Linked DNA regions of Homo sapiens. The protein of the gene in region 2 interacts with the protein of the main gene of each other region in a biochemical or structural test. Each region holds a gene or a part of one and is shown on either strand. Other genes may lie near its edges. The genes, in order: PLCB2, TRPM7 and PLCB1.

Evidence for each region.
Region 1: the proteins of TRPM7 (region 2) and PLCB2 form a complex in vitro, tested with the Homo sapiens proteins (one study listed by BioGRID).
Region 3: the proteins of TRPM7 (region 2) and PLCB1 form a complex in vitro, tested with the Homo sapiens proteins (one study listed by BioGRID).

The regions. Positions count from the first base shown.
Region 1 is NC_000015.10:40,304,914-40,312,330, reverse strand, and holds the start of PLCB2 (1-phosphatidylinositol 4,5-bisphosphate phosphodiesterase beta-2), read left to right. Parts: upstream 1-4,395; 5' UTR 4,396-4,658; coding exon 4,659-4,742; intron 4,743-7,417. UniProt on the Homo sapiens protein: The production of the second messenger molecules diacylglycerol (DAG) and inositol 1,4,5-trisphosphate (IP3) is mediated by activated phosphatidylinositol-specific phospholipase C enzymes.
Region 2 is NC_000015.10:50,585,795-50,592,902, reverse strand, and holds part of TRPM7 (transient receptor potential cation channel subfamily M member 7), read left to right. Parts: intron 1-276; coding exon 277-992; intron 993-3,246; coding exon 3,247-3,311; intron 3,312-6,414; coding exon 6,415-6,511; intron 6,512-7,108. UniProt on the Homo sapiens protein: Bifunctional protein that combines an ion channel with an intrinsic kinase domain, enabling it to modulate cellular functions either by conducting ions through the pore or by phosphorylating downstream proteins via its kinase domain.
Region 3 is NC_000020.11:8,128,132-8,135,266, forward strand, and holds the start of PLCB1 (1-phosphatidylinositol 4,5-bisphosphate phosphodiesterase beta-1), read left to right. Parts: upstream 1-4,134; 5' UTR 4,135-4,520; coding exon 4,521-4,619; intron 4,620-7,135.

The DNA.
Region 1 (7,417 bases), about 10 Mb from region 2:
CTCAGCCAGCTTTATTTACAAAACAAGGAAATAAAGGCTTAACTTCTAAAAAAAAAAAAAAAGGTTGGACCAGGACAGGAGTAAGAACAGAAGCAATTGATCAATACTGATGACCTTCCCTATATGCAATGCACCGTGCCCACCTAGAGGAGGACATCATATAATTTATTTCTATCACACTTATTAAAACTGGCCCATTTCACAGAGGGATTGACAGAGGCAGAGGAGTGATTGTGCCCAAGAATGTCACACTGGGATGAGAGCTAAGCCTCTCCTGCCACCTACAGCTCTCATCTCTAGGTTTGTTGTCTCTCAGAGGAAAGGCAAGAGAGAAAAGTGACAAGATTGGCCCTTCCAAGTGGAAAGAGATTTTTAGAGCTGGAAGGATTCTTAGAAATGATCAAAAGTTTGACAGATTCAAGGGCTCAGGTAACTTGCTAAGATCACAGAACAAACCTTTGCTCCAGTGGGGACTAAACTCTGGGTTTCTTGAAGATGGACACAGGTAAATTTGATCCAAAATAGCACTTCAAAGAGAAACATACATGGACTGATTGTTTTCCACTTTTTTTTTTTTGAGATGGAGTCTCGTTCTGTCACCCAGGCTGGAGGCAATGGTGTGAACTTGGCTCACTGCAACCTCTGCCTCCCAGTTCCAGCTATTCTCCTGCCTTAGCCACCTGAGTAATTGGGATTACAGGTGTGTGCCACCATGTCTGGCTCATTTTTGTATTTTTGGTAGAGACGGGGTTTCACCATGATGGTCAGGCTGATCTTGAGCTCCTGACTTCGTGACCCACCCGCCTCGGCCTCCCAAAGTGCTGGGATTACAGGCGTGAGCCACCATGCCCAGTTTGTTTTCCACTTCTAAGTCCCAGATGGTTCCTTGTCGGGTTATAGAGGGGCTTGGAATGGGAAGACAAGCAACATCTTCCTCCTGGGCATCTACAGGAAACTTGATTGCCTCTCTCCTCCCTAAGGGATCAGTGTTGGCTACCCAGCCTTGCCCATGCCTCCACTTCTGCTTAGCTCTCAGTACACAGAGGGTGGCTGAAGCTGGGGCCACAGAGGGACACACAGCTGGGCAGCTCAGCACTCTCATCTGTGCCTCATCAGCTGGGGGGCTGTGGTGGCATGAAGCTGGTGGGAGGCTGGCACTTGCCCATGATTGGAGCCCTTGTGCTCATCACTTCATGAGTTCAGGCCGCTTGGGAACAGCTTGCTTCAAGTCCACAGACAGGAGCAACCCTAACTCAGTCTGCCCTGCAAAGGTGGGTACAGCCCCTGATCCACACGAACTGCTGGAAGAAAAATCCAAAGAGAAAGTCAGTGAAGACGTTTGTAGAAAGAACTGTTGAAGAAGGAATAAGAAACTGCCATTTTTCCTGTCAGTGTCTGCTAATAAGTAATAATAAAATAACAATGATAACTCATAATGATAATGATAGTATTATTGAGCTCATGTGTAGGCACTGTATTAAGTACCATTCATTATATTCTTTAATCCTTGCAACATCCCCATGAGGCATTATTATCCCCATTTTACAGGTGAGAAGGCTGAGGCCCAAGAAGGTTAAGTATCACAAGATAAACCAGCTAGTAAGTGGCTGGGTTCCTAGAGTGGTGAGTGTGGCTCCCTTTGCCAGACTGGGAAACAGACACCATAAGAGCCATCTTCCCTCCAAAAGAGGGCCAGCCCTTGACCAAGATGGACAACAGGGTTCCACACTCCTGAAACCCACTGCTTCAACCATCATGGCATCAGATAAGAAACCGACCTAGTCTGATCCTCTTATTTGGCTGGCAGCTGTGGCACCTGAAGGTCTGAGTTCAACTTCTGCCATTAAACTTCTCTGATGAGCAAACTGGGAAACCAATGCATGGGGCTCCCACATAGCACTGGCAAGTGAACAAATGAACTTGGGACATATGTGCTGGGGTCCAGGTCACAAGCATGTCCCTTGTGGGAGGCAACATTTGGTTGAATATAAGTTCTTACCACATTCTATGGCCCAAGGCTCCCACTTGCCAAACTCTCTGGCATAGGTGTTCCCGTGGGTCACAAATGACAGACCCAACCGCAACTTCCAGGACATGCATGCTTTGAGTGCACCCAGCAGGGGGCATCCTTGCCCTTCCACTGCCCACCCTGGAGGGGTGAGACTGGCCCACTGCAGGGTTGCCCTCTACCCAGCTCAGCCCAGGAGCCCAAGGCCACATTTCCCAAACGGGGCATTCATGTAACTACCCTGATTTTCTCTACTATTATTTACATAACATTTTTCTTTGTCAACACAAATTTTCAAACCTAAATGTATTTTTAAAAGCAAAAAGCTCTTTGATGAAGATTTTCCGCTCTCCTGACTGCCTGGATTTTCTGCATTTTTGGAGCTAGCTTTGCAGGAGGTCAGGATGTGAGCAGGAGAGTACAGGCCCCCACTGAAGCTACAGTTGTGGTCCCAAGAACAGTGCAGGCAGTGACATCACTGAGTAAAGATGGGCAAGGCTTTGTTCTGTGGATTCGGAGCTGGAGATGGAAAGGAACAGAGTGAGGAGCCCTGAAATCCTGAAATGAGGAGAGGAGGCTGTCCCTTTCCTCCTCAGGCTGAGGGGGAGGAATGGACTGGTCTCTCCAGGCCCAAAGTGGAGAGGGGGCTGATGGCTACAGGACAGATGAAAGGGAGGGACTTGGGTGCCGGGACCAGGGCAGCCGCAGGTGACAGGTGCAGGGGCTTTGGGAAGGGACAGGGATTTCCCTTGCAAAATCCATTCAAACAGATATCGAGGGAACCTGATCCCAGGGAGGAACCCAGAACAGCATGGGCTGCCAGAGGGGCCCCCAGAAGGGCCCCAGACTGGAGGGAGGGAGAGAGGAGAGATGACGCTAAGGGACTGGGGGAAACGAGGAAGAAGAGTCCTCTGAATTGTTACCATTTCCAGAGGCTTGGTCAGGCCCTGCTCCGGCTCCATCCCCCGGCCCTAGAATTGCTCTTCTGCAGATTATTTCTGTGCTGGGAATTCCCTTAGCTCCAGCCTCCACTGGGCAGTTTATTATCTTAATTCCGCATGAAGAGTGTCCTCCCTCACCCTCCACCCTGCCCTGGACCAGACCTCCAGCCGCGACAATTCTAGGGCCTGGGTGAGGGTCTTACCGTTGTTGGGGGTATGCAAAGCCCCATGGGGGGGTGACCCAGGGCAAAAGGCCAGGCCCCAGAGGGGAAGGAAGTCTTGGGTAGAGCTCCCTGCCTCCCAGGCTGGGCTAAGAAGGGCGATAAGAGGAGCAGATTAGGCAAGAGGAAGTGGGCTGGGCTGAGCTGGACTGGTGCTGAACTCCCTGGGCCTGGGGCAGAGTGTGGGTCAGGCACCTGAGCAGCTGGGGCTGAGCCTGGCCAACCAGAGCAGCCATCCCTCCGCCCCAGCCCCGCTGCAGGCTGGGGTACACAGCAGAGGCGGGCACACGGAGGAGAGAGGAGAGCGCAGTGGAGGCAGGGGCTAGGGCTGCTCAGTGGGGGTCCAGGCCTCAGGCAGTCCCAGAGGCCCAGAGGTGGGAGTCTGGTGAGGTGGGTGAGGGGAGTGATTGCCTTGCCTCATGTGCCCCTCATTTTCTTTCTTTTTTTATTTTTTTCGAGATGGAGTCTTGCTCTGTCGCCCAGGCTGGAGTGCAGTGGCGCCATCTCGGCTCATTGCAAGCTCCGCCTCCTGGGTTCATGCCATTCTCCTGCCTCAGCCTCCCGAGTAGCTGGGACTACAGGCGCCGCTGCCACGCCCAGCTAATTTTTTGCATTTTTAGTAGAGACAGGGTTTCACCGTGTTAGCCAGGATGGTCTCGATCTCCTGACCTCGTGATCCGCCCGCCTCGGCCTCCCAAAGTGCTAGGATTACAGGCGTGAGCCACCGCACCCGCCCGCCCGGCAGGTGCACCTCATTTTCATGGGGGAGGAAGCATTGAGAAAGAGGAGCCGTGTGTTCAGCAAACTTTGCTTATTCAAAACACTCCATTCCAGCTGGGCCCTGTCCCCACCCCACCCCTGCCTCTACGGTGCTCCCAACCTTTGGGGTCAGATGCCCATGCTCTGGACCCTTCCCCTGAGGAGGTCCTTTCTCCTAGTGAGCTCCCTGTGCCTTCCCTCAGTCCAGGCCTGGGCAGCAGTCTCCCCAGCTGGTCTCCATGTCGTCCTTCTCCAGCCCTCCTGGGCCAAATCTGACCAGAGACCACCACAGGGACTGAGAGGCCCTGGCTCCAAGGCGACCCGGCCTCATGACCACGTCTCCGCTGTGAGCAGCGCAGAGAAGGAAGCCCAGAGCAGGAAGTGCTGAGAGGCACAGGGTGGGGCTGGGGGTGGGGGCGGGGGCCTCCAGAAGAGGCGGGGGCTTCCTGCTTCAGCCTCCTTGGGCAGAAGCAGTGACCACAGGCCCCCATGGCAGGCAGGGCGGGTGGGAGGAGGGTGATTTACAAGGCAGATGGGCCTCTGGCTACAGCTCAGTCCTGCACTCAGCCAGGGCCACCCCAGGGGCTATAAGAGCAACTAGATTTCTGGAGCAGCTCGGGGATGGGTGCCATTTGAGCCCAGCTTGGCTCCCCCTCCTGGCTGGCCTCCTTCCTGCCCTTCTGCCTGCCTGTGTCTGCTGAGATTCTGCAAAGAGGAACGCTTGGCACCATGTCTCTGCTCAACCCTGTCCTGCTGCCCCCCAAGGTGAAGGCCTATCTGAGCCAAGGGGAGCGCTTCATCAAATGGGATGATGTAAGTGGGGCAGGGGCCTCAGCTGCTGGAGCACCAGGTGGTGGGGGCCGGGCTGCTACGGGGCTTTGCTTGGGTGGGAGGATTGGTTTATGTCTCCTAGGATCCAGGCGCCTGTGTGGTTTGGCCAGGCAGCTGACACCACTGCTTGGATAAACAAACCTGGGATTAAGGGTGTATGTCCCCAGCTAAAGGGCTAAGCCTTGGTTCTAGGTGTGAGAAGTGGGTGAGCTGCCTGGGTGGTCACTGGAGGTAGTTTATTTGGGTCTGCTTCTCTTCTCCTTCAAACCCCCAAGAGAAGAGGAGGAAAGTGCACCCCAGAGCTGAGGCAGGCTAGGAGGAGAGGTGAGCTCGTCCCCGCTCCCAGCACAGATGTCTTGCCCTTGCTCCGGCAGGGCGCTCAGACCCAGCTCCTTCACCCCCTCCACTGGGCATCATCCTGTCCAGGGAAGCCTTGCTCTCCCCTGCGCTGCTGTGGGGGCAGCCACAAAAGGCCCCTGGACCTAAGTGAGAACTAGAGGCTTCTGCTCCCAGGGAAGGAGCTGATTTGACTTCTGCTACCCCTTGCTGGGCTCAGCATTGCTCCCCGATGCAGGCCTGTCAGCAAGGGAAGGGGAAGACACTGCTGCACCCTGCAGCCCTCTCTCTGCTGTGTCTGTTCCTTCCTACACGGGGCTGCTCCCAGGCTCTGGTTCTCCTGGCCCCTGAAAATGTTACCTTAGGCCAGGGATTCTCTTAGGCTGGAGAGAACAATATGGAGATTCTCCTTCAGGGAGGGGAGGCTGCTGGGCTCGCCCAGTCTGAGAGTTAGAGTGCTGGGCTTGTCCCAGGAAGGGAAATGAAGGCTTGGTGGGGGAGGGAAGACAGCCCTTAGTGCTGACTTGTCCACCTGATGGGAGGTGGGATGAGGGGGTCTGGGTCTAGGCCCTTCGGGGCTGGGCTAGGCTAGGGGATCTCGCTGCCCATGACTATGGGTTGGGGCCCTGTGGTGAGATGCTTCCTGCTTCCCTAGGAGTGATGTGGGGTTGGTGTAGCATGGCAGTGGCATGGAGGTGACATGCCCCAGGAGCCTGTGGAATGAGGGAAGTGGCTCAGAATGAAAAGCGAAGTGGCCTCTCTCAGTTCCTCTGGGCAGTGTGTGTAACCTGACTGGGCAGAGGGTCACAGGGTGGCAGTGGAGGTCGGGGGTTGGTGGCCAGCGGAGACTGTCCTTCTTCCTAAGCTGGCACCTGTGTACCTGGCTGTTCCCTTCCCCTCTCCAAGGTAGGGCATTGGATGTTCTCTGGATCCTGACCTGCACAAGCAAGAATGTCCCAAGCCTATCCACAGGTCCATGCTGCTGTGAGACAGGGCTCTGCTTTCAGGCTGCTTTTGGCACAGTTAGTGGATGGCATGGGTGTGCTGTGCCATGTTGAATAAGCAGAATACATAGGATGTAAGCAAATCCCAACTTTATTTCATCTCCCATGGCCTCTTTACAATATATTTGGTAGGAGAAGCTCTCCCCCTGGCCATGGAAAGAAACTCTGCAAGGCCACAAGACATTATATTTACTCTCAGGTAACACAGTCCAGTGGTCACTTTTCATCACAAAATCCAGTCCGATGTCAGAAACTGGCTATAATCAAAACTCCAACCTTTATTTACACTGACATCTTCTACCCTTCTCCTTCTAGGAATGGTTTCAGGTAGGCTGCAGGCCCCCTGGAAAGGGCCTTGGTGGGATTCCCTGCTGGTCCTGCTCAAGGCCCCTCTAGGCATGAGCTATAGGGAGGGAGGTGGGAAAGGGGTAACCAAGTTCTATTTAAACAGGTGCTGTCATAAATTGGCTCATGCTTTCTGAGCCTGGCAGAAGCTTAAAGCTGATTCTTTCTCTGGAGGACATTTTTGAGGATTCTTGGGAGACCCACCCCTTCGAATGGGAACCTGTTGCTTGAAGTCCCCCCAGCATTTCTATTTTAGGGGTCACTCACAACTATGTCTTCAGCCCCTTCTTACCACCTTCAGCTTCCTGTGGCTTTAGGCCCTTTGCCCCCACTCTCCCATGGGCCCACCCTGGACCCCAGCAAATACCCATGCATCCATTGTCCCAAGGGTGCAGGCTTGTCCAACAGGCCAGCACCCCCTGCTCTGCCTCACACAGTTAGCTCGCTGTAGTCCACTTGGTCTCCTGGGCAGGAGTCCGACCTCTGTCTGTTATGCCTACAACTTCAAGGATCACAGGGGCCTGTTGTGGGGTGGGGGGAAAGGGGAGGGAGAGCATTAGGACAAATACCTAATGCATGCGAGGCTTAAAACCTAGATGACAGGTTGACAGGTGCAGCAAACCACCATGGCACATGTATACTATGTAACAAACCCACACATTCTGCACATGTATCCCAGAACTTAAGGTAAAAAAAAAAAAAAAAAAAAAGAGATCACAAAAGCTCTCTAAGTAGAGTTGAAACCCCTCACTAGGCTTAAGGTGGGGGATCAGGCACTCCAACTCTCCCTTGGGGAGGTAAGGGAATGGAGCTCCCAACACAGCTTTCTTAAAATTGGCTTCTCCACAAAAATTTTCCCTTTTCCCTGTACTCTAACCACCTCTGATCTGAGAACATTTTTTGGATCATTCACCTTGTAAATGCTGCATTTGGTCTGTTTTAGTATACGGCAACTATTGTGCCTTGCTGGAA
Region 2 (7,108 bases):
ACATTATTTTGTGTTACTTTGATGTGGGGTAATTGGAATAAGTAGCCTGTGGAACAAAAACGTTTTTTGAAATCTTGCATTTTAATATAAGATTAGCACTGGATCCTTCTTAAACATAAGGTAGGCCTTGTATAATTAAATAACTGTACCTTATTTTATATCTTGTTTAAATGCATGTGAAATTTTTCTCTTTTTATCATTATTATTTGAGGCTACAAAATAAAATTCTACATTATTTTTTCACATTTGTAAAAAAAGCTTATTTCTCTCCTACAGAGTGGAACAGATGTGCATTCAGATTAAAGAAGTTGGAGATCGTGTCAACTACATAAAAAGATCATTACAATCATTAGATTCTCAAATTGGCCATTTGCAAGATCTTTCAGCCCTGACGGTAGATACATTAAAAACACTCACTGCCCAGAAAGCGTCGGAAGCTAGCAAAGTTCATAATGAAATCACACGAGAACTGAGCATTTCCAAACACTTGGCTCAAAACCTTATTGATGATGGTCCTGTAAGACCTTCTGTATGGAAAAAGCATGGTGTTGTAAATACACTTAGCTCCTCTCTTCCTCAAGGTGATCTTGAAAGTAATAATCCTTTTCATTGTAATATTTTAATGAAAGATGACAAAGATCCCCAGTGTAATATATTTGGTCAAGACTTACCTGCAGTACCCCAGAGAAAAGAATTTAATTTTCCAGAGGCTGGTTCCTCTTCTGGTGCCTTATTCCCAAGTGCTGTTTCCCCTCCAGAACTGCGACAGAGACTACATGGGGTAGAACTCTTAAAAATATTTAATAAAAATCAAAAATTAGGCAGTTCATCTACTAGCATACCACATCTGTCATCCCCACCAACCAAATTTTTTGTTAGTACACCATCTCAGCCAAGTTGCAAAAGCCACTTGGAAACTGGAACCAAAGATCAAGAAACTGTTTGCTCTAAAGCTACAGAAGGAGATAATACAGAATTTGGAGCATTTGTAGGTAAGTTTGGCAAATTCGTATTTGTATATCAATATTATTTACTTTTCACCTTAGAAATAATAGAAATATGTACTGTTACAAGTCATTATCTTTTCATAGAGTATAATTATAAAATTTTTAAAAAGAATCAGACACCTGTGATTCTGGTACTTTGGGAGGCTGAGTGGGGAGGATTGCTTGAGCCCAGGAGTTGAGGACCAGCCTGAGCAACATAGCAAGACCCCATCTCTACAAAAAATTTTTGGAAGTAGCCAGGCGCAGTGGCATGTGCCTGAAGTCCCAGCTACTCAGGAGGCTGAGGCAGGCGAACTGCTTGCACCCAGAAGCTGAAAGCTGCAGTGGGCTGTGATCACACAACTGCACCATAGCCTGTGTGACAGAATGAGACCCTGTCTCTAGAAATGAAATGAAAAAAAAAAAAAAATCAGAAGTAGGGGAAATAGACTGAATTAGGCTATAAGAGTTATATTGGCACATAACCTCTTTGATGGAATTTTAGGTTCTGTCTTTTGAATTTGAATATCTTCAATTGGGTTTCATCAACTCTTGTTGAAAACCTAAGTGATTCTTAAGTACTTGGAGAACCTCATAGGGGAGGTTAGAATCAACTGGAAAAGAACAGTGCCCTATAAATAGATGACCATATAATTTTTTTACCCAAACCAAGACACTTTAAAAGTGAAAGGGTGCACTATTAATAATTATATCAGAACAACAATGGAAATCTAGGAATCTACTGGGAAAATTAGTACTTATGGTGTACCTATTTATATATTCACAGAGAACATTTCAAAAAGGAATGACTTATTCTTATACCTATGATAGCTTAAATAAGATAAGAACAAAAAAAAATGTTTATTTTGGCAGTAACACATTAAAGACCTTAGTGAAAACTTTCATGCATAGAGATTATTCAGACAGTATGTTAATAAGCCCATGGAAAATTGCCACATTAAGGCCAGCCTAGGAAGTTATCTAGGCACTAAACATGTTGATATTACTTCTAGGCTATATGGGATTCACTCTAGATACATAGATATAACTTTTCCTACGTTAAATATATTCCCCCTTTTTTTTTTTTTTTTAAAAGACGGAGTCTCCCTCTGTCGCCCAGGCGGGAGTGCAGTGGCACAATCTCGGCTCGCTGCAACCTCTGCCTCCCAGATTCAAGTGATTCTCCTGCCTCAGCCTCCTGAGTAGCTGAGATTACAGGCACACGCCACCACACCTGGCTAATTTCCAATTTATTTTTAAAAATGCATTTTAGCCTATTTGTTAATGTATTACCAGTGGGGTGTATGTATATATCATATATATTTTCTCTACATGTATATTATATAGGAAAAGTTACATATCTGTATATCTAGAGTGAATTCCATATAGCCTAGCAGTAAGTATCAGCATGTTCAGTGCCTGAATAACTTGCTAGACTGGTCTTAATGTGGAGATTATACATGGGCTTATTAACATGTTGTCTGAACAATCTCTATGTGTGGAACAGTTTTCATTAAGGTCATTAAAGTGTTATTGCCAAAATATTTTTGTTCTGTTTTTGTTTAAGTTATAGGCATAAGAATAAATCATTCCTTTTTGAGTGATTATCCGTATATATGTAATGCTTTTTTTTTTATTAATAGTAAAAATGCTTGGTCCCCTTTTTTCTTTTAAATTTCGAGCTATTTATTCATATCACATGTTGGTTTGTTTTATAAGGACTTTGGCTTTTAACGTTACTGTAAACTTAACTATAATCTTGGCCAGGTGCGGTGGCTCAGGCCTGTAATCCCAGCACTTTGGGAGGCCAAGACAGGCAGATCTTGAGTTCAGGAGTTCAAGACCAGCCTGGCTAACATGGTGAAACCCTGTCTCTACTAAAAATACAAAAATTAGTCAGGCATGGTGGCACGTGCCTGTAGTCCCAGCTACTCAGGAGGCTGAGGCAGGAGAATTGCTTGAACCCGGGAGGCAGAGGTTGAAGTGAGCCAAGGTCACACCACTGCACTCCAGCCTGGGCAACAGAACGAGACTTGTTCTCAAATTTAAAAAAACAAAAAACAAAAAAAACTGTAACCTTCACCAGCTTCTTGGCAATTTTCAATTTTATTTATCAAAAGAGCTAAAGGAGACTGCAGAGCCATCAAGTGTACTTGAAAAACAGCATAAACCTATTGTTTTTATAAACTTTAAGCAGTGCCATTATTTCGGTGAAGAAAAATAAAAATTTCTCATTGCAACATCTTTTTTTCTATTAAAGGACACAGAGATAGCATGGATTTACAGAGGTTTAAAGAAACATCAAACAAGATAAAAATACTATCCGTAAGTAAATCCTTATTAAAACACCCACAGTTCTATTTATTTTACTGTCTTGATGTTTAGTTCAAAATTTAATTAAACATTTTTTCAGCAAAAATACAGTTTTAGCAGATATCATTAACATGCTGATACCAAATATTTGAAGCTGTCCTCAGTTTGAAAAAATGAACAATTGAGGAACATGAAAAGGTACAAACAGCTTGCGTAATTATACTCACTAAATAAAAAACATCAGCTATTTAACATTTCTCTCTTTTTTTTTTTTTTTTTTTTTTGAGACGGAGTCTCGCTGTCACCTGGGCTGGAGTACAGTGGTGTGATCTCCGCTTACTGCAACCTCCACCTCCCGGGTTCAAGTGATTCTCCTGCCTCAGCCTCTTGAGTAGCTGGGATTACAGGTGCGCATCACCATGCCTGGCTAATTTCTGTATTTTTAGTAGAGATGAGGTTTTACCATGTTGTCCAGGCTGGCCTCAAATTCCTGACCTCAAGCGATCCGCCTGCCTCGGCTTCCCAAGGTGCTGGGATTATAGGCGTGAGCCACTGTGCCCGGCCTACATTTCTTTTTTAAAAATTTCTTCTCCCCATATGTTTTCCACTGATTAAATACTTAATGAGCTCACTCTTCCCAGATCCAAAAGTTTTATTTGAACATGACCCTGACTCTTAGAAACCTATTGTCTAGCAGTGAGAAGCTGTATATTATGTACAAGTGCAAGATAATTTGATAAATGTTTGTTAAATAAGTTTCAAAATATGTAGAACAGCTGGCAAAAAAGGTGTATTCTTGCCTGCAAAGTTGGTTTTATTTCTTAAATGTTGCTCTCATATATTACTTGTGGCTATTTAGAGCCTTTGGAGTGGTAATGTGGCTACAACAAGATAATTAAAAACACCTAGAAAGGTGTTAAGCTTCTCTAGCCCTTAAAGAACTTACATTATAGAAATGTTAAGTGACATACACAGTGAAAACAGGACCTTTCCTAAAGCTAGAACCAAGGAAATGATAATGACGTAGGAGTTTCTATGAATGATTACTTTTTATGTGATCCAGGTGAATTATGTAATTGCTGTCAGGCCATATTACTTACTACCCTACATATAAAAAGTAGACTCAAATGCATTTTTATATTGTAACATTTTGTATTTTTATTATCATATTTTGATTAAAGTATTGTACTAAATCAATTAACTTAATTTAATATCTATTAACTAGATATTGATAACTTGGTATTTAATTGGTTATTATATGCAAATTGAGGTGTAATGATTACCTGGGTTTTTTCCTTTCTGTATTTGCCTTTAAGTTTGAGAATAGTTGCATAATTTTCTTACCTCAAATAGGAGCAGCAGAATGATGTAAGAAATGTGATTATGGAGTATACAGAGATGCCTAAATATGAGGTAAAGTCTCTTTAGTATATGCAGAAGTCAGAAAGTCAGCTTAAAATATACCCATGTGCTTTTAGATGGAGGAAATAGGTGTAGGTTCAGCGGACCTATCATAAGACTATAATTTGCAGTGTTTTCTAACCATTTTAATTATGGCATATTTAGACTGAGAGCTAAATAAATGGATCAAGTTCACTTAGGTAGCCTTAGCTGACACACGATAAAAAGAGAAAGAAGAAAAGCGGGAATGAGAAAAAGTGCTAGAAAGAAGAAAGAACAGACTGCTGTCTACCAAATTGGTTTTATAATTATTGCCATATGACATATGGAATATCTGTATTCCATATAGGGTTGAAGTAGATTTTATAGGTAAATGAAATGTTTTATGGACTTTCATAAGTTTTAGTAAAGCTGTTTATAATGTAGAATTATTTAAACCTAAGTTCATCACATTTTCTTTTTCTTTACACAAATTATTGTCATATTGCCACACTCTGGTGGTATCATTTTGCTATTGCGAAGCACTTGATAGAAGTAAGACATAAAATTTAGGATAAATGGACATTTCTTAATGGGAAAAGGTAAAGCATCAGAGTTTTCCCACAGATTTCACCTTTTTAATAATGAACTTAAAGAAAAAACGTGCTGAAAATTTTTAAGTGGCAGGTACTCCTTGATAAAAACAAGACATTGCAAGTTTCTGTGAGTTAGCAGAAAAGCAGTAGCTGTGTTTTGATTTAAACAACTTTTTTTTTGAGATGGAGCAAGACTCCATCTCAAAAAAAAAAAAAAAAAAAGCAGTATTTATTGAGCCAGTAAAGCCTTCAGGGCTTTCCAAACACATAAATAATAGAAAAATATTAAGGGAAAATGTAGAGATTTAAGTACCTAAAAAACATAGTCAAAAGAAATTTGAAATACAAATTGAAATCTGACAAAATAGTGAGCATATAGATAACCTTGTTGTATAAATAGCTCATACAAAGCAATAAGAAAGTTACCAAGATCCCCAAAAGGAAATAGTTCCCCCACCATTAATGTTATCAGTGTGTCAAGATACATGTAAGATAATAGCTTCTTTGGGGGTGAGGTGAATTCATAATGATTGCGTTTTTTCTCCACAGTTTTGTATATTTTTCCAACTTTTTTGTGAGGTTTTTTGTTTTCTTTTGTTTTTGTTTTTTTCTTGAGACGGAGTCTCGTTCTGCCAGCAGGCTGGAGTGCAGTGGCTTGATCTTGGCTCACTGCACCCTACGCCTCCCGGGTTCAAGTGATTCTCCTGCCTCAGCCTCCTGAGTAGCTGGGACTACAGGCATGCGCCACCACAACCAGCTGATTTTGTATTTTTAGTAGAGATGGGGTTTCACCATGTTGGCCAAGATGGTCTCGATCTCTTGACATCATGATCCGCCCGCCTCGACCTCCCAAAGTGCTGGGATTACAGGTGTGAGTCACCATGCCCAGTCTGAGTTTTTATTATTATAAAAAATTCATTTGGATGGATTTATGAACAGTAGGAAAATAAGGTGTTTTGGTGCAGCTTTTGAAATTGGCATTGAAGAAAATAACCATAATCTATAATACACCCATTGGTGTCCAGGTAGAATAAAGCATATTGAGCTAAATAGATCAAGGGACTCTAATACTACTTAGAGTAATGGGTTGAAATTTAGTTCAATTATTTTCAAATTATATGTCTGCACAATATTTGCAGAATAACAATACTTCTGAAAACACTTTGAAACGAGTGAGTTCTCTTGCTGGATTTACTGACTGTCACAGAACTTCCATTCCTGTTCATTCAAAACAAGGTGAGTATTTTGACCATATGAATAGTGTCAGAAAACATACTCATTTACACTTTAAATGTATTTTATGTTTGTCAAACACATGAGCAGTGAATGGTGCAGGAGTCAGAAGACGAAAATTCTGATCTGCCATAGTGACTGTAACCTTGAATAAGTCGTAATCCTAGCATTCATTAGAATGTTTTATTAGAATATGTTTTACAAATTGTTTATTCTGTAAAGATGGAATAGAAAAACTTTTTGTAAATCTGCTGCTTTTAGCTTTTGCAAATGTATCTGTTCATCTGTATCATGTTTTAATCTGTATCATCACTTATTCAACATATTTTTCTAGTTTAACTTTTAAAAATCATACATTTTTGGTTCAAAATTAAAATACACACACTCTGAAAATTTTCTCTCTCACTCTGTTCCCACATTTACCACTATTTGTCTACCCTTTAGAGTTTCATGCTTATACAGTCATGTATGACAGTACAATCTTATACCTCTCATTTTTTACACAAAAGGTCACAGACAATACATGTTGCCTTGTACCATTAATTTCTCATTTACTATATTGTGGTGATGTTTCCATATCATAATTTTTTATAAGTCAAG
Region 3 (7,135 bases), on a different chromosome or scaffold from region 2:
AAGGAGAGAGAAACTACTCATATCTGCCTTATAAGTTGTAGAAGTATCTACCATGGTAGTTAAGAGTCTAGGTTCTAAAGTCAGACTTCCTAGGTCTCCATCTCAATTCCGAATTTTGTAACTGGAGGAGGTTAATCCATCCTCCAAACTTTAGTATATAAATCAGTAAAATAGCATACAATAATATTATCTACCAGATCAGCTGAGAGTAACAATAAAGCTTAAATAATAAAGAGATTTATTATCTCACTCATTAAAAAGTCTAAAGAAAATTTAAAGGGTTTAAAAAGCTCATGAAGGACCAGGTTTCTTTGCATCTTTCTTGTCAGTGTCCTCTTTACATAACAATATGAGACAGAGAAAGAGAATTTCCCTGAAGACATTAGTCAGAACTGAGCCCCTCATATAGCTCTTAAACCAGTTACAGACAAAGGGGAATGGAATTATTGACATTAGTTTAGGCCAATCATAGTTTGTTCCTTGGAAAGAGAGAGGGGCCATGTTTCCTAAGCATGACGACCACCCAAATTAAGTCAGGGTTTGCTTACAAGAAAAAGAGGGTGGAGAGTGGTGTTGAATAGGAAGGGTTATGTTTTTTAGTGTCTGGGAAGTGCTTAGCTTAGTGCTCTGACCCACAGTGAGTGCTCAATAAAGGTTAGCTTTGCCAGCTCCCTGAGGCTGACATTCCCAGAGGGCAATTCTGTGCTCTCACAAAAAACAGACCTTCCTATTGTTTCAAAAAACAGTACACAGCACCGAACTTGACGGATCACAGGCCTGGCTCACACAATTTTGGATTTCTTACAGATCCCTTTGCATAGCAAAAATCTCCACACTTGGACACAGGAAGGGGAACATCACACACCGGGAACTGTTGTGGGGTGGGGGGACGGGGGAGGGATAGCATTAGGAGATATACCTAATGCTAAATGATGAGTTAATGGGTGCAGCACAACAACATGGCACGTGTATACATATGTAACTAACCTGAACGTTGTGCACACGTACCCTAAAACTTAAAGTATAATAATAATAATTTAAAAAAAAGAATGGGAAAAAAACAAAAAAACTCCACACTTTAGAAACATTTCTATCTTGTATACTGAACAAAAGGTGTGGAAAATGAGGGAGTTAAACCATGCTGCTTCAAGCATCATGCTACATGTTGAAGGTATTTATCCTGTAGTTCTCCTTTAACAAACTGCGTCATTTTGCTGGCTGAAGAAACTCTTGCAGCCCATGTTTGTCTTGAAGACAAATCCTGTTCAGATTTCTACAGCGTTCTCTCCTTTTTACGTCCACGTTCACAGCAACAGCTGGGAGGAATCAGGGATGCTAGATGAAATACTCAACTATCCATTGCCAATAATGGTGGTTACCAAATGACTCCCAACTCAGTGCCATTCAACAATGAACGTTTATTGTCATGTTCATGAGTCTGCAGGTTGGCTGAGTCTGGGAGATCTAGGATGGTTTCTACTGGACTTGCTTCCAAGCTGTAAATGGGGCTTAGGTCTGTCCTGATTGTCTCCTTAGATCAGAGGCTCCCTGAGGCATGTTTATCTCATGGAAATGATAAGAAACCCAAGAGGGAAAGCCCAACCTCAAAGCATATTTTGAGCCTTTGCTAATATCACATCTTCAAACATGCCATTGGCCAAAGCAAGTCACATTGTCCAACATCAATGGGATGGATAAATAAACAGGGTGTCTAGTAAAAACTGTAAGGTCACAAAGAAAAATGTGTGGACGCAGAAAGGAGCAGGGAGCAGAGAGCTATGATGCAATAAACTACCACAGGAGGCTCAATCTACTTCTTATTTTGCTTAGAGCTCATTGTAACTCTCCAATCTCCTCTTCTAGTGAGCGCAGCCCTGTCTTGCCTTCCTAAGCCACTGTGACAGGTAAAAACTATTTGGCCAATAATCTTTCCAGTAAATAACAAAGAGATAGAAGGAGAAAAGGAAAAGAAAGGAAAGGAAAGGAGGAAAGGAAAGGAAAGGAAAGGAAAGGAAAACAATTTGGTATGATCAGTTGTAAGGACAATTGAGAAGTTCTGGAGCCCTGGAAGCAGAGTTTCATTGCAGTACTCTGAAGTAGAGAAAATCGACTTGAGACGGTGACTGATACCTTCTGTGAGGTAATTAGCAAGCCAAGGCTGCTGGCTAGAGGGACTGTGGACCATTCAGGTTTTAGTTTAGGGACATGTGATCAAAATGAAACCAGTCAGTTTTTCATGAAATTCTTTGTAGCAATTGGCTTCCAAGCACAAGGCAAGACCCTCAAATGACAGCAAGAGTCATGGGTCTTGTTCACCAGGTTATCCATGGTGATTACAATAGTGGCTAGTATACAGCTGGCTACCAATAAGTATATTTTAAATGCATTGAAATATTTAATAGCAAATTTCTGTATTGGATTTTGGTAATCTTTTGACTGAGTTCATAAGCATTGGGCCTTGGAGTCCTGAGGGCAGAGAACAGGGAGAATGAAGGATTAAGAGAATGTAGTGTTTCTCTCCATTTTTCTCTCTTCGTATTCTTTCTTCTTTTTAAAAATCAACCTTTTTGAGATATAATTTATTTAAAACAAACTGCACTCAATTTAGGCGTACTTACAGAACTTACAAGTTTTGATAAACACACACACGATATAGAACATTTCCGACATGCTCATCAGGTGCTCGTAGCCCTTCCCTGTCCATCTCTACCTATCCCTGGCCACAGGCAAGCTTTCTGTCAACATAGAATATCTTGCCTATTCTGCAATTCCTACACATGGAATCAGGCAGCATACAGTCTATCGTGTCCGGCTTCTTTTACAAAGCTTAAAGTCGCGATTCATCCCTGATCTTGCATGCCCACTCATTTTTATTGTGGAATAGTATTCCAATATTTGGGCATACCACAGTTTGTTTATCCATTCACCTGTTGATTGACATTTGCAGGCTACTAAGAAGAAAGTTCTTCACATCACTTTACAAGTCCCTGCAGACTTGAACGTTTTCATTTCTTTTGGACAAATACTTAGGAGTGGAATTTCTAGGTTGTATGATAAGTAAATATCTTACTTTATAAGAAACTATTCTCCAAAGTGGTTTTACTATTTTATATTCCCTCCAGCAATGAACAAGAGTTCCAAGCTATTTCTCTCTCCGCCCCCCCACCTCCCGCGTGTGTCTCTCTCTCTCTCTCTTTCTCTCTCTCACACTCACTCACTCTCTCTCTCCCTCTCCTCTCTCTCCTTAATAAAAAAAAAAAAAGAGTTCCAGTTGCTCCACATCCTTTCAAGCATTTGGTATTACCAGTCTTTAAAATTTTATCCATTCTGGTCCTCCTCTTTCCCTTCTTCCCTCCCTCCCTCCCTTTCTTTCTTGAATTGAGAAATGTTTGTGGAAGGAGTGAAGACAAACATTCCTGGACCTATGTTCCTAAATGAGCAAGTTTCTATTAATAAGACTCTCCCCCACCCGCCACACATCCTACACACTCAAGGAGAGGAGCGGGAGAGGGCACCCTCTTTCTTCCTCGGAAAATAAAACCTTTGCTTTCTTTAGGATGGGCTTTCTGTCTCGAAAGCACAACGTAACCGTTTGCCCGGGTTTCAAGATCAGCGCGCTGCAAACTCTCAGGCGCGGCCAGGTTTCCTCAAAGAGCCTCTCAACTGCGCTCTTCTCTGCTGATAAATGATAATTCTCTTCAAAAAGCTGGTTTGTGGCTGGCGCTGGAGAGCTCCAGCTAGAGCCAAAAGCCAGGGGTTGCCTCTTTGGTTCCTCCCGATGGGCCCCTTTTCCCAGCCAGTTGGGATCCAAAGACGCTCCGGAGCTCGAGCCCAAATTCCCAAGAAAACCCCAAAGAGCGTAAGGCTCCTGGGGACCCCTAGCACCTCTGCAACCAGGGCACGGGGCATGCTCAGAGCGAATGCGGGAGGCAGGCGTTGGCTGCAATGGGGCTCGGGAGCCAGGAGGTGCCGCTGCGTCCCCGCTTCCTGGCGCCTGACCCAGCGTGCAAAGTTGGGCTGGGAGCCGCGGGGGGAAGGAAGGACCCAGCGAGCGAGGGTGGCGGGGAAGGGGGGCGGGGGGGAGGAGGAGGGAGGAGGGAAAAGAGCGGTTAGGGGGGGCGCCGGGCGTGTGTCACTCGCTCTCTCCCTCTGTGTATAGAGGATGTGCTGAATGGTGCGCTTTGAGGCGGCGGCGGCGGAGGAGCAGAATCCGCCGCGACTGGCAGCCTCGGCTGACCGGCTCGGCTTCTCTTCGCCTTCCGAGGCTCCTCATCCACCGCGGGCTCCAGACCTCGCGTCCCGCCCGGGGCATGGCCGGGCGCTGCGCCCCCGCGCGCTCTGCCTGCTGAGCGGCGCCGGAGGGAGGTGCGGAGGCCGGGAGGCCGGGGAGGCCGGCGGGGAGCAGAGTCGAGCGCCTCCGGAGCAGAGAAAGGAGCCCGCGCCCCGCGCCCCGCGCCCCGCGCACGGTCCCCAGTCCCTGCCGCGCTCGCCCGGGCCGCCCGGAGCCCAGATGAGCCCAGATGGCCGGGGCTCAACCCGGAGTGCACGCCTTGCAACTCAAGCCCGTGTGCGTGTCCGACAGCCTCAAGAAGGGCACCAAATTCGTCAAGTGGGATGATGTAAGTATTGGGGCGGCCCGAGTCGGGGCGCTGGCTCGGGCACCGGGCAGGGCGGGCGTCGTGGGGGTGGGGCAAGGGGCGCGTTATGCAATGGGCGCACTGGGAGCGGGCAGGGGCAGCCTCGGGCGCACAGGTTGGCATCTGCCAAAGCGGATGTCCAAGGGCAGAAGCTTTGCGCGCGCTCCTGTTTCATCGGGCTTCAGTAGTTGCCATCCTTTCTGGGTCTGGCAGGCGCCCCCTGAGGGTCTTACATCTTTTGGGCCAGTGGAGAGGGAGGGGCAAGCTTTGCCTGGTGACAGGTCCTGAGAGTTCGGAAAGTAGGGAGTGTGAAGTTGGGACCAACTGGAAAGCGCCTGGTGTGAACAAATCGCGTCCCTCTCCGCCTGCGGACGCACCCCCTATTACCTCTTTTGCCCGATTTCAAGAAGGAAGGACCTGAAGTTCAAAACACTTTAGTGATTGCGAACCCTCTTGGCGCTTTTGTGGGAGCCAAGGCGGCGGAGGACACAACGGTCCAGCCAACAGGTGGTCGTTGATGCCAAACTTCAGCGCCTGGCTCCGGAGTGAGGGTCCCTGAAAAGGGCTGCGGGGACACATCTGGGGAGGGCGTGAACAGAATGGGGGCCCTTGAGGGGTCCTGGAGGGCTCATGGGCCTGCAGGCAAGTGGGGAGGGCTGACTTTTGAGAACTGAGCTGATTGGAGTCTTCTGCCTGAAATAGACAGGTTGAGAGTTTGCCCCACGATTTACCTGCACCGTTTGCCAGGTAGGGCAGAGCCTAGCCCAGCGCCGGGGTCTCTAATGCTTTACGAGCGGCCCAGACCCCAGGACTTCAAATGACTTCCCCTTCCCCTCTACCCCAGTTGTCTTCAAAACACGTAAATTAGTTATCCAGCTGAAAACATGCGAATCTTCGGATGGAGAACATTATGGTATCAGTTTTATGTCCTGGGTGTCATTCTAAAGGTTCGATAAGAAAAACCTACTGAAATAAACCCGAGTTGCCAGGCTCTAAGCAAATTTAAGTCCAAATGACTAATACATCTCTTAATCAGAAGGAATTATAGGAGAATGAGGCGTTCTTCTTGCCGAAAAGATTTTCCACCTAGTAAATTATAGCCTGTTATCCTCTAGGGTATTTTTCTTTAATCTTCTTAAGCCATTTTCCAGTGTCTGAAAACAATTTAAATATTCCAGGTAGTGAATCCAATTACTTAGCTGAGTGCGTCTGTGTCTATATTTTGTCCAGCTGGAAGCGCAAACGGAACTTGGAGTATGAACCACAGCTTCCTTGAAAGCTCGTGCCAATTATTAAATGCTGTAGGCAAGGATGTAAACATACATCTTTTTACCATGGGCTTCACACTTTTCTTCTTTCTGTTCCAGTCTAATTGTACTGAATGTTTCTGTAAATGGAATAGAATCTAAACAATAAATTCAGACGCAGATTAAATGCTTTGTGTCAGGGAAAAAAAAGACAAAGAAAATGCAGTTCAGCAATAAACAAGACGGTCTTGCCCATTTTGAGATCCTTGAATAGAGAGGTGATGTGATGATGGATTTACTGAGAAAGAGAGTGAAGGGCAGAGGAAAGAGAAAGAGACTTTGCAGAATTTAGAAAAGGGAGTTTCAGCGTAAGCTCTGGATTTGTATACAGTGATGATTCTAAACTGTATTTTAAATAATTCTCTATAATTTCTTGTTTGGGAGAGAATAGCCAACATCACATTGAGAATGAAAGTATTCTATGAAAACACATTTTGGTATATCCAGGTAGATGACTTTCATTATGTGCATTTCTGTAACACATATTTCTTGCTCACCTATTACTGCCAATCCTAGACTGGATTCTGGGGTGGTGAAAAAAGTAGACAAAATCCCTGCTGTTACGGACCTTACATGCTAGGTGGAGGAGACAAAAATCATCAAAAACACCAATGAGAGAGAGATTGGGTGATGCATTGAGGGTAATAGAGAGGACGTTAGTGAAATACCAACCAAAGAAGAAGTTGAAAAGAGCTCCTTCTGAGCATTGCAGCAGTGAGTTTCCAAGGAAGCCCTCCTGAAAGAAAGGACATAGTCACTAAGGAGAAGACCAGAAGAATTTCAGGTCTTTTTTAAAAAAAAAAAAAAAACCTAGACTGCACTCAGGAGTCAAGTTATCTGGAATATAATGAGCTATCTTGCAGGCTCTTTGGTTCTCTGGGTCTTCATGCTGATCAGTGGACTACAAGGGACCCAGCCTTTCTTAAGGTTGCCTTTCTCTTCCCCAGGCATCCCTTTTCTACTCTTCTCAGCTCGTATTTGCCCTTCCAGAATCAAGCCAGTTCAAGTTATCTGGCTATTTATATTGTACCTTAGTGAGACAGTGTGTTGAAGACAAAAAAGAACCAGATCTTGAATCAAAGGCCTGAGTTTACCTCCTAGTTCTTTCACCAGTAAGCTGCATGACTTTAGGCAAATCACTTAGCTTCTCTGTATTTTTGCTGCTTCTTGTGTAAAAGCGTGGTAATGTTA